2 separate regions of the Homo sapiens genome follow, and region 2 is linked to region 1. A link means that fine-mapping ties the variant in region 1 to the expression of a gene that starts in the linked region. Tissue or cell type: whole blood. Region 1 holds a variant in brackets; the other region holds the start of a gene. All regions are shown on one strand. Distances are from middle to middle.

What was found. PIP is the estimated chance that this variant, and not a neighbour inherited with it, causes the effect.
Region 2: it holds the start of DBN1, and the variant in region 1 is fine-mapped to the expression of DBN1 in whole blood (GTEx, PIP 0.90).

What each region holds. Positions count from the first base shown.
Region 1 is chr5:176,849,272-176,853,536 of GRCh38, forward strand. The region is part of intron 1 of UNC5A (unc-5 netrin receptor A); the gene reads left to right. Among named protein-coding and RNA genes, the nearest start is that of UNC5A, 41 kb to the left of the region's middle. The variant C/T (reference allele first, on the strand shown) is at 1,661.
Region 2 is chr5:177,471,848-177,475,991 of GRCh38, forward strand. It overlaps DBN1 (drebrin 1), which reads right to left and starts at 1,787. Exons shown (of 15, transcript NM_001363541.2): 1 at 1,589-1,787. The coding sequence starts at 1,674. RefSeq lists enhancers at 645-1,148, 1,149-1,650 and silencers at 799-985, 905-1,274, 1,305-1,504, 1,585-1,964, 1,975-2,024.

The sequences.
Region 1 (4,265 bases):
AGCTTCCCTTGGGGAAAAAAAAATCAGTGCAGGCTGGGCGCAGTGGCTCACGCCTGTAATCCCAGCACTTTGGGAGGCCAAGGCAGGTGGATCACCTGAGGTCAGGAGTTCAAGACCAGCCTGGCCAACATGGTGAAACCCCGTCTCTACTAAAAATACAAAAATTACCTGGGTGTTGTGGCATGCACCCATAATCCCAGCTACTTGGGAGGCTGAGGCAGGAAAATCCCTTCAACCAGGGAAGTGGAGGTTGCAGTGAGCCAAGATCACGCCATTGCTCTCCAGCCTGGGCAACTGCGTCTCAAAAAATTAAAAAAATGGTGCACCTCTCATCTGGCCTGCCCCCTTGGATGGACACTGTCACTGTCCACTTTTCCCAGCCCCACCCAGCCCCTGAAGGCACTGAACTTGCCACCTCTCACTCAGTCCTACATCTCCTGAGGTCCAGAGAGGGAAGTGGCTTGCCCAAGGCCACGTGGCCAGGTGGAGGCAGAGTGGGGGCTGGGGACTCAACCTCCTGATGCCCAACTGAGGGCTGTGCCCCAGCCCCCAGCAAGTACATACCCTGGGCCAGTTGCCAGCAGGGACAGAGATGACACCCTACTGCCCACTCTTGGAGCTTGTGGCAAGTTGAGGAGACATTTCAACTCTGCCACCATCACTGGCCCCCGACTTGCCAGCCCCTGAGCTGGACACTGCTGAGAAGAGTTGGCTCCCACCTGCTGTGTGCACTGGAGGGTGCACAGGCTGACAGCGGAGGCAGGTGCCTGCACAGCCAGCCCTGCGTCAGCAGGATCATGGGAGGCCGAGGAGCAAGCCATGCAGCCCCACGTCCCCCAGTCCCTGCCACACCAGCCCAGAGGAGGCAACATCTTTAATTTTGAATGAACAGGGCTGAGTGCATTGGTAGTAGGTGGGGTGCCCTGCAGGTTTAGGAGGAAGTCGGGGTGTGAGCCCTAACTTTAATACATGCACCTGGCTGAGCTGACTGCAGGGTATGGGTTGGTGACCAGGGATGGGACTGCTGTGTTAGTTGTATGGGAACCATTGCAGGGGTTTGAAGTGTGAGATCGGATTCTCTTTCTAGAAATAGCGAGGTTGAGGACGGCACTGAGCTAGGAGGTAGCCAAGGGAAGGCACACTTTGGGTGGTGGGGCCGGGGGTGGAGGCTGGATGAGTTAGGTGGCCACGAGGGAGGAAAGGAGGGAGGCTTCCTGGGAGGTGGGGGCCCTGCTGACTGCAAGAGGCAGAAGGAGAGTCGGGATGGCGCAGGCAGCGAGGGTGGGCGGGGAGCCTGGCTAGGGACCCCGGGGCAGGAGCTGATGGGGGCCACAGAAGCGGGGCCTCAGGAGAGCCGAGCCCGGGAAGCCGTTTGCAGCTTCAAGGAGTGGCTGCATGTGCTGGCCTCTGCTGTCGCCCTGGGCTGGTGGGACCCATGAGTGGGAGCTGGGTTTGTCCCTAGGTTACTGGGTTTTCCTGTGGGCCATTGTATGAGGAGGGGTCCAAGCGGGCTCATCTGCTGAGAATGGGAATCAAAGATTGGCTGGTGGCCTGTGGCCTCAGTCACCATCCTAGTGTGGGCAGTGGTGTATGTGCCCACAAATGCTAATGGACCGGGCTGCAGCAGGCATGATTCTGGAGGCTGTGCTCCCAGGACTTC[C/T]CAGTGCTCCCAGGACTTTCCAGTGCTCCCAGGACTTCCCAGTGCTCCCAGGACTTCCCAGTGGGGCTGGGGTCCCTGGGCCACCCCATGGGGGCATGGACGTGGGTCCCTCTTGGGCTGTGTTGGCCGGTGCCTAGCACGGTGCCAGGACATGTTGCCAGATGCATGCTCCTGGTTGAGAGCCCGGGGCACTGTAGCCAGCCTGCCTGGGCAGGAACCCATCGCTCTCGACTTACTGTGCCTCTCCATGCCTCAGTTTCTTCATTGGTAATTCAAATTAGTTCCTTGCCTCTTAGAATTGTTGTGAGGGTTAAATAACATCCTGTCAAGTTCACCATGGCTGTCGTTGCTGTGACTGTGTGGGTGCCGTGACGGCTGTGGTTGTGGGCAGTGTCTCCCACCAGCCAAGGGCAGGCGACTGTGTAACCTCCCAAGTGCCTCTGGGCTCTGGTCCCCACCTTGCACAACCTGAGCTGCTGCCACTCCTGGACCACCCCGGCCCCAGCTCTGGCGGGGCACACATTAAACCAGTGAGATATGAAATGCCGCCATATGTGGGACAGGGTCTTTAATTAAATTAATTGCCAGCAACATTGTAAAAATGCTGACGGGGCCATAAATGGTGTAGGCCACGCTGTTCATCATCCCCGCGCCGGGGCCACACCTGGGCTGGGGGCGGGGCTGGCCATGGCGGGCTGCAGCCTCTGAGGGAGCTCTGTGCACCCCCCTCGGGTGGCCCCCGGAGAGGGGAGGGGAGCATGGGGGCAGGAGGCAGGGGAAGAATGTACTGTCAGGAGGGGCTGCAGAGTGGCACTCCTAGTTGGGGCAGCTCCTGACTTTCCAGCTGGCCTGTCTTGAGGGGCAACTGTGGAACAGGTGCACTGTCCTTACTCGGCCTTATGGTGCGTGTGCCTGGGGAAGAACCCGGATGGAAATGGGGAGGGTGCCCCCAGAGCTACTCTAAGTAGAGTTACCTCCATCCGTGGGCAGTCGGGTGATCTGCCCCGGCTCTGCCATGGTCGCTGTGTGTCCTTGAGCTAGTCATCCCGTCTCTGAACTCATTTCCTCATTAGGAAGACAGAAGGACCCTACCCACCTGCCTGCCTCTGTCGTGTTCCCAGCGCCCTGCCGGCTACCCTCTCTTGGCCTCTCGCCTTTTGGGGAGCTGTGCCAGGAATTCTTTATGTCTCTCTCAGCCGGGGCTGCCACAGGCCTTGCCAGGGCTCAGAGCCTGCCTACCGCCCCTACTGCTTGTGAGGCAGCTGGGCCGGCCACCTGCCTCTGCCAGGTGAGAGGTGAGGGAGGCTCACACACACTCACACACACCACACACACAGAAACACACATACACCACACAGAAACACTACATACACCACACAGAAACACACACATATCACACACAGAAACACACACAGAAACACATACACACCCCACACACAGAAGCACACACACACACACACTACAGCTACCAAAGCACAGGCGCCGGCCAAGGATCCCAAGGCAGGAAAGCGCCTTCCTTCCCCAGTTTTCCCTGGGCCGTGTGACCACATAATTACCCTGGATTCCATTCTATTTAATTGCAGCTTATTAAGTTCTAACCAGCCAATTATCAGCCACAATTACAGCTTAATTCAGGGACACAATAGCTATTTTATCATTTGTTAATCAAATGCTTATTTAGACCTCAGCTTTATTAACTATTTCTCTGGCCTGAGGCGAGGCCCCTCAGCAGGAAGGGGCCCTTGGTTGGGGCCATAGGAGCCCGTCCCCCCATCACAGCACTCCCCCCGGGAGTTTCTGAGTTCCCTTTGCGGTGGGTTCAGGTACTTAGCGATGGCAACAGTGTCACACTAAGTGTGGGAAGGCCCAAGCCAGTTCACTCTGCGTTTGCGACATCTTGGCTCAGCTCCTGCCCAGTGCTAGGCCCTGTGCCTGGTGCTGGGACCGGTGGCAAGACAGATGTGGTCCTGCTGTTGTGACATGTTTTACGGAAGAGTAACCAAGTACACAAACAAGATGACCTCAGGTGGTGGCAGGCGTGAGGAGGAAAACAGACTGGGAAAGGGGAGGGAGAGGAAGAGCTCCTTCACACAGGCCAGGTCCTCGGTGACAGTGACTCCGCGGGAGCAGAGATGGGACGGGTTAGAGCAGGCAGCTGTGGGAAGATCGGAGGCAGCGTGTGCGGGCACGACAAGTGCAAAGGCCCTGCAGTGGGGTGAGTGCAGAGCATTTGAGAACAGATACAGGAGCCCTGCCCCACTCCTGGCCCCGGCCATTTGGCTAAAGTCCTTGGTGGGTTGTACCACCTTAGGAAAGGCCTGAGCCTCACGTTCCTTGTCTGTACAACCAGAGGCAGGAAGAAGGAGCCTGTGAGCAGTGGCCGGGGCGGAGGACAGGCCTGGTCTGCAGGAGCTGGCGGGCAAGGGACCAGCGGTGCCCCTGCCCAGAGTAGTCATCCTCTGAGATGGGAGCGGTGCCGCCCCCGCCCTGCCCCTTTGTTCTTTGTGGTTCAGCCTGTCTGCATGTCCTCCTCGTGACTCCTGTGTCCGTCCTTGTGACCAGGCCCCTGGAGCCCACTGGGGAAGAGGGTGACTTTCCTCCGATC
Region 2 (4,144 bases), 620 kb after region 1:
CCTTGGCAATAGGCCACCAGAGCTCTGCTTTTAGGAGAAAATGGGGTGTTGGTAGACAACACCCCTCCAGGCTGGAGGGCAAAGGAGGTGTTCTGGGGTGAGCTGTGCTTCTCCCCAGGCGGGGCCTTATCCCAAAGCCAGCTCCTTCACCAGGCCAAGCCGGCCACTTGCCCAGAGCTCCTCCCATGATCTCAGCCCCCCTGGGGCAGGGCTGGGACAATGGGTGGGCCGCCTGCCTGCTGAGCCTGTGCCGGCCTCTCCTGTGACTGACCTGCAGGACACGAGAGCTTGTCTCTCGCGTCCATCCCTCCAGGCCTGGCTGCTGGCCAGTGCTGCAGTACCATGCCATGGATGCCCAGCCATCTCATCCTCTCCTCCAGAAGCCCCCAGGTCAGAGTCCCCACCTGGCTGCCCTCCCAGTGTGCGGGTGAGGCCAGCCCAAGCGGGGTCCCTCAGACCTGCCCTCCTCTTTGCCTCAGTTTCCTCAAGAAGAACCTGTTCCCATCTGCCAGCAGGGAGAGGAGGCCTAGGAACCAGATGGGCACCTTCCCTAGAAGAAGAGTATTACGGGGGGGTTAAAGGATTCCAGGATGGGGCTGTGAGGAACCCCTCGGTTTCCTTTTTCCACCACCCTGGGCCGCCAGCCCCAGAGCAGGTGGTCCATCCCCTCCCCCAGCTCAGCGGGAGACAACAGCTGGGGGGCGGGGTGAGGGGCGGCCCAGCTCCTCCCCCATCAGGGACCGAGTGCCCCTTGCTGGGGGCCGGTGGATCTGTTCACCCCTTCAGCCGTCTTTGGGGGCTCCCTCCACACTTGTTCTCCAGAGGGCTTCCTCCCAGGGATCTCAGCTGGCCCCTTAGGCAGCTCGGTGCCCCCCAGCCCAGCTGCCTAGTCCCCGCAGTCCCCTTCAGGTAGGGGAGGAGAGCTCACCCCTGCCTCCTCCGCGACCCGCGGCGGTAAGGGAGTCACTTCGCGGTCGCCATGTGGCAGCAAACATCCTTCCACCTCACTCCAGCCCAGGTTTCGGGGGGAGGGCGGCCCACTCCGAGAGGCCCCCCGGTGGGCGGGGCGCCCGGCCCCCAGCCCGCTCCGCTCCTCCCCCGCCCTCGCTTTCCTTTGTGCTGTGGCCGGGCCGGGCTGAGCCGGGCAGGCTGCGCTGGCTCCGCTAGCTCGGTCCCCGCCCCGTCCCCGCCCGGACCTCGCCCGCTCGAAGGTGGCGAAGGTGCCCTTGGCCGCCCCGTGCACACCTGTCCCCCGGGCCCGGGGGGTAGGGTGGGGGATGGGCTCCCGCAGGGCCACGCGGCCCCGGGCCCCACATCGGGACCCCGCGCCTCCGGGCCGCGTCCGGCCGCCGCTCCCACCGCGCGCCTTGGGCCGCCTCCGGGCGCTCGGGGCCCGGCAGTGCCCCGCCTGGCCCGCCGGCCCCTCCCCCGGCGCGCACAAAGGCAGCCCCTCCCGGCCCTCCCGGCCCGCTGCACCATTTCGGGGTCCCCCTCCCTTCCCGGCGGCGGGGCGGCGGGGCGGGAGAGAAACAAAGGCGCGGCGGCGGCGCGGGGACAAAGGGGCCGGGGGCGGGGGCGGGGGGCTCACCAGTCGGCCGCGCTCTCCTCTCGGATCACCTCCTCGTAAGCCGCCAGCAGCTCCAGGCGGTGGCCGCTGAAGCTGACGCCGGCCATGCTTCGGGCCGGACCGGGCCGAACGGACAGACGCGCGGACGGACGGGCGGACGGAGGAGGAGGGAGGGAAAGAGGGAGTCGCCGCCGCCGCCTCGGAGCCTCTGCAGCGTCGCGAGCCGAGCGAGCCAGCGGCCGGGGGAGGGGAGCCGGCCGGCGGGGGGCGGGGGGCGCTGGCTCCGCCCGGCTCGCTCCCTCCGCTCGCTCGGTCCTAGCGCCGCCCCGGCCCGGCCCAGGGGGAGGCCCGCCCCCCCTTCCCGGCCTGCCCCGGGCGCCCCTCACCCACCGCCCCTGCGCGCCGCTCCAGGGCCAGCCCCACCCACGTCCCGAACCCTCACCTGCCCCGTCCGTAACCTCGGCGCTAGCCCTCCTTCCAGCCCCGAACCCAGTCCCGTCCCCACCTCCCCCCGCCCACCCCCCGTCCCAATCCGGTTCCGCCCCACCCATTGCTTCATTGATCTCCATTCCTGGTGCGTCCCACCTCATGTTAAACCCATTTTCATCCCAACCCAGCTCACACAACACCCCACCCCTGGCCCGTCTCCTTTCCCTGAGAGGTCCTTGCCTAGTCTATCCCATCATATCCACTGTCATCTGCATCCCACCCTCAAATCCACCCCAGTTGCTTTCCCATCCCAGCTTCAGCCCCATGCTTAGCACGTGTCCCCCCCAACATGTGTCACGGCACATCTTCAGTCCAACCCATCCCAGTCTCATCCTGATCCCAGTTCCCAATTCCCAACCACAGCCCCCCATCTCGGCTCCATGACCACTTATTCCAGGCCATTCTCAGCCCCTACCCAGCTCATTATCCCTCCATTCCAGGCCTCTCCTCCCCTCCACGCCTGTGCCCTCTCAGATGGGGCCAGCTAGGAGATCCTTTGCATTCTCTCTCAAGCCTCACGCCTCCCAGAGGAGTCCCAAGTAGAGTTCCGGAAGCAGCATCTAACCCCAGACTCCCACGGCAGGGCTCCTCCAAGGACGCTCAGGGCCAGCCTCTTGGCACCTTTATCTCCTAAAGCTCTAAGCACAGAACGGGAGGGGGCCTCAGAAAAGTACCCCCTGCAAGGGAGTGGACACCATGCCAGGGCCTTCCAGAACTCCGTTCCTTGCTAGGTTGGGACCCTGAAACCGTCCACAGCGCTTAGAAGCCTTTTCCACCACTACAAAGCCTCCAACCTCGACCTCCCTGAGCAAACTTCACCTGGTCCCAACCGCACCGCGGAGGAGGAGGTGGTTCTAGCCAGGCCTCCGAGTTCTGCGTTGGGTAATTGGCTATGCCAAGAGAAGGAGAGCAGGGCTGCCTATGTGGCAGTGTTCCTGGCGCTTTGGAGTTGGGAGAACCCTCTTAAAACTCAAAATACTCACAGGCCCCTGCCTTGGGAAGTCAGTGCCCACTATGTCTAGGGACCACAGGCCATGGCAATTTCTCCATGGCCACCACTAGAGTGAGGCACCCAGGCAGGGACACAGCCAGGCCCTGTGCCCTAGACCAACTGGCCAGTAGGTGTGGTTGGCCTGCCATGGGGATCCCTAAGGGAGTGGGTGACACATGGTGGGGAAGGGAAGTGGGGAGAGCCATGGAGGGACAGAGCTTCAGCCATCCCCCACCCTTAGGCATGAAGAGCCTGATTCTGGTGAGGAGGGAGACCCTGCAGCCGGGGAGGGGCAGCAGATGGCTGGCCATGAGCATCTGTGGCCTCAGCCTCTTCCAGCTTCCTTTGATTTGTCCTAGCTCACAGCTCCTCGCCCCCCCCGCTCCCCTCACCCCCCAGCCTCCTGCACACTCAATTTTGCATCCAAAAAACAGAAGCCCTAAATGCATCTAAGCTCTTCCTTCCTCAAATTCCTGCCTCCCCACCAGCCACCTACAAACTCTCCAGCCACGCCCACTCTCACCTCTTGCCATCAACATTTTTAAATAAACTTTCTATTTTAGAACAGTGTTAGATTTACAGAAAAGTTACAAAGATAGTATAGAGAGTTCCCATACACCCTGCACTCAGTTTTCCCTATTTTCAGGGAAGCAAGGGTGTTCCCTGCTGGCATGCCCTAGAGCCCACTCCCCTGGTCTCCGCACCCGTCACCCTTCCAGGTTATCTTCATCCCCTCATTTCTATAGGATGCAGACAGACATCTGTCCTCTGTCTCCTCCTCCCCGCATTTTCTCTGGCACTGCTCTGGCCAAGGTCACCAGTAACCCCTAACTTGCCAAACTCAGTGGACCCATAGTTCTCAGTTGCCCTGACTGGTGGGAGTGGGTGGCCACTGGTCACTGTCCTCTGAGAACCTGCCTCCTTTCAGCTGCTGTTGCCCCTGAAGCCCACACACTCAGCCTTGGTGGGTGGGAGGCTGGTGGGTTCCTCCTACCAGGACTTCGTGTCTGCCACCCCCAAACCGATCACCCTTCAAGTCACTGACAGGTCGGTCTCTCCCACCCCCAGAGCATGAGCTCCCCCTACACACAGCGGGA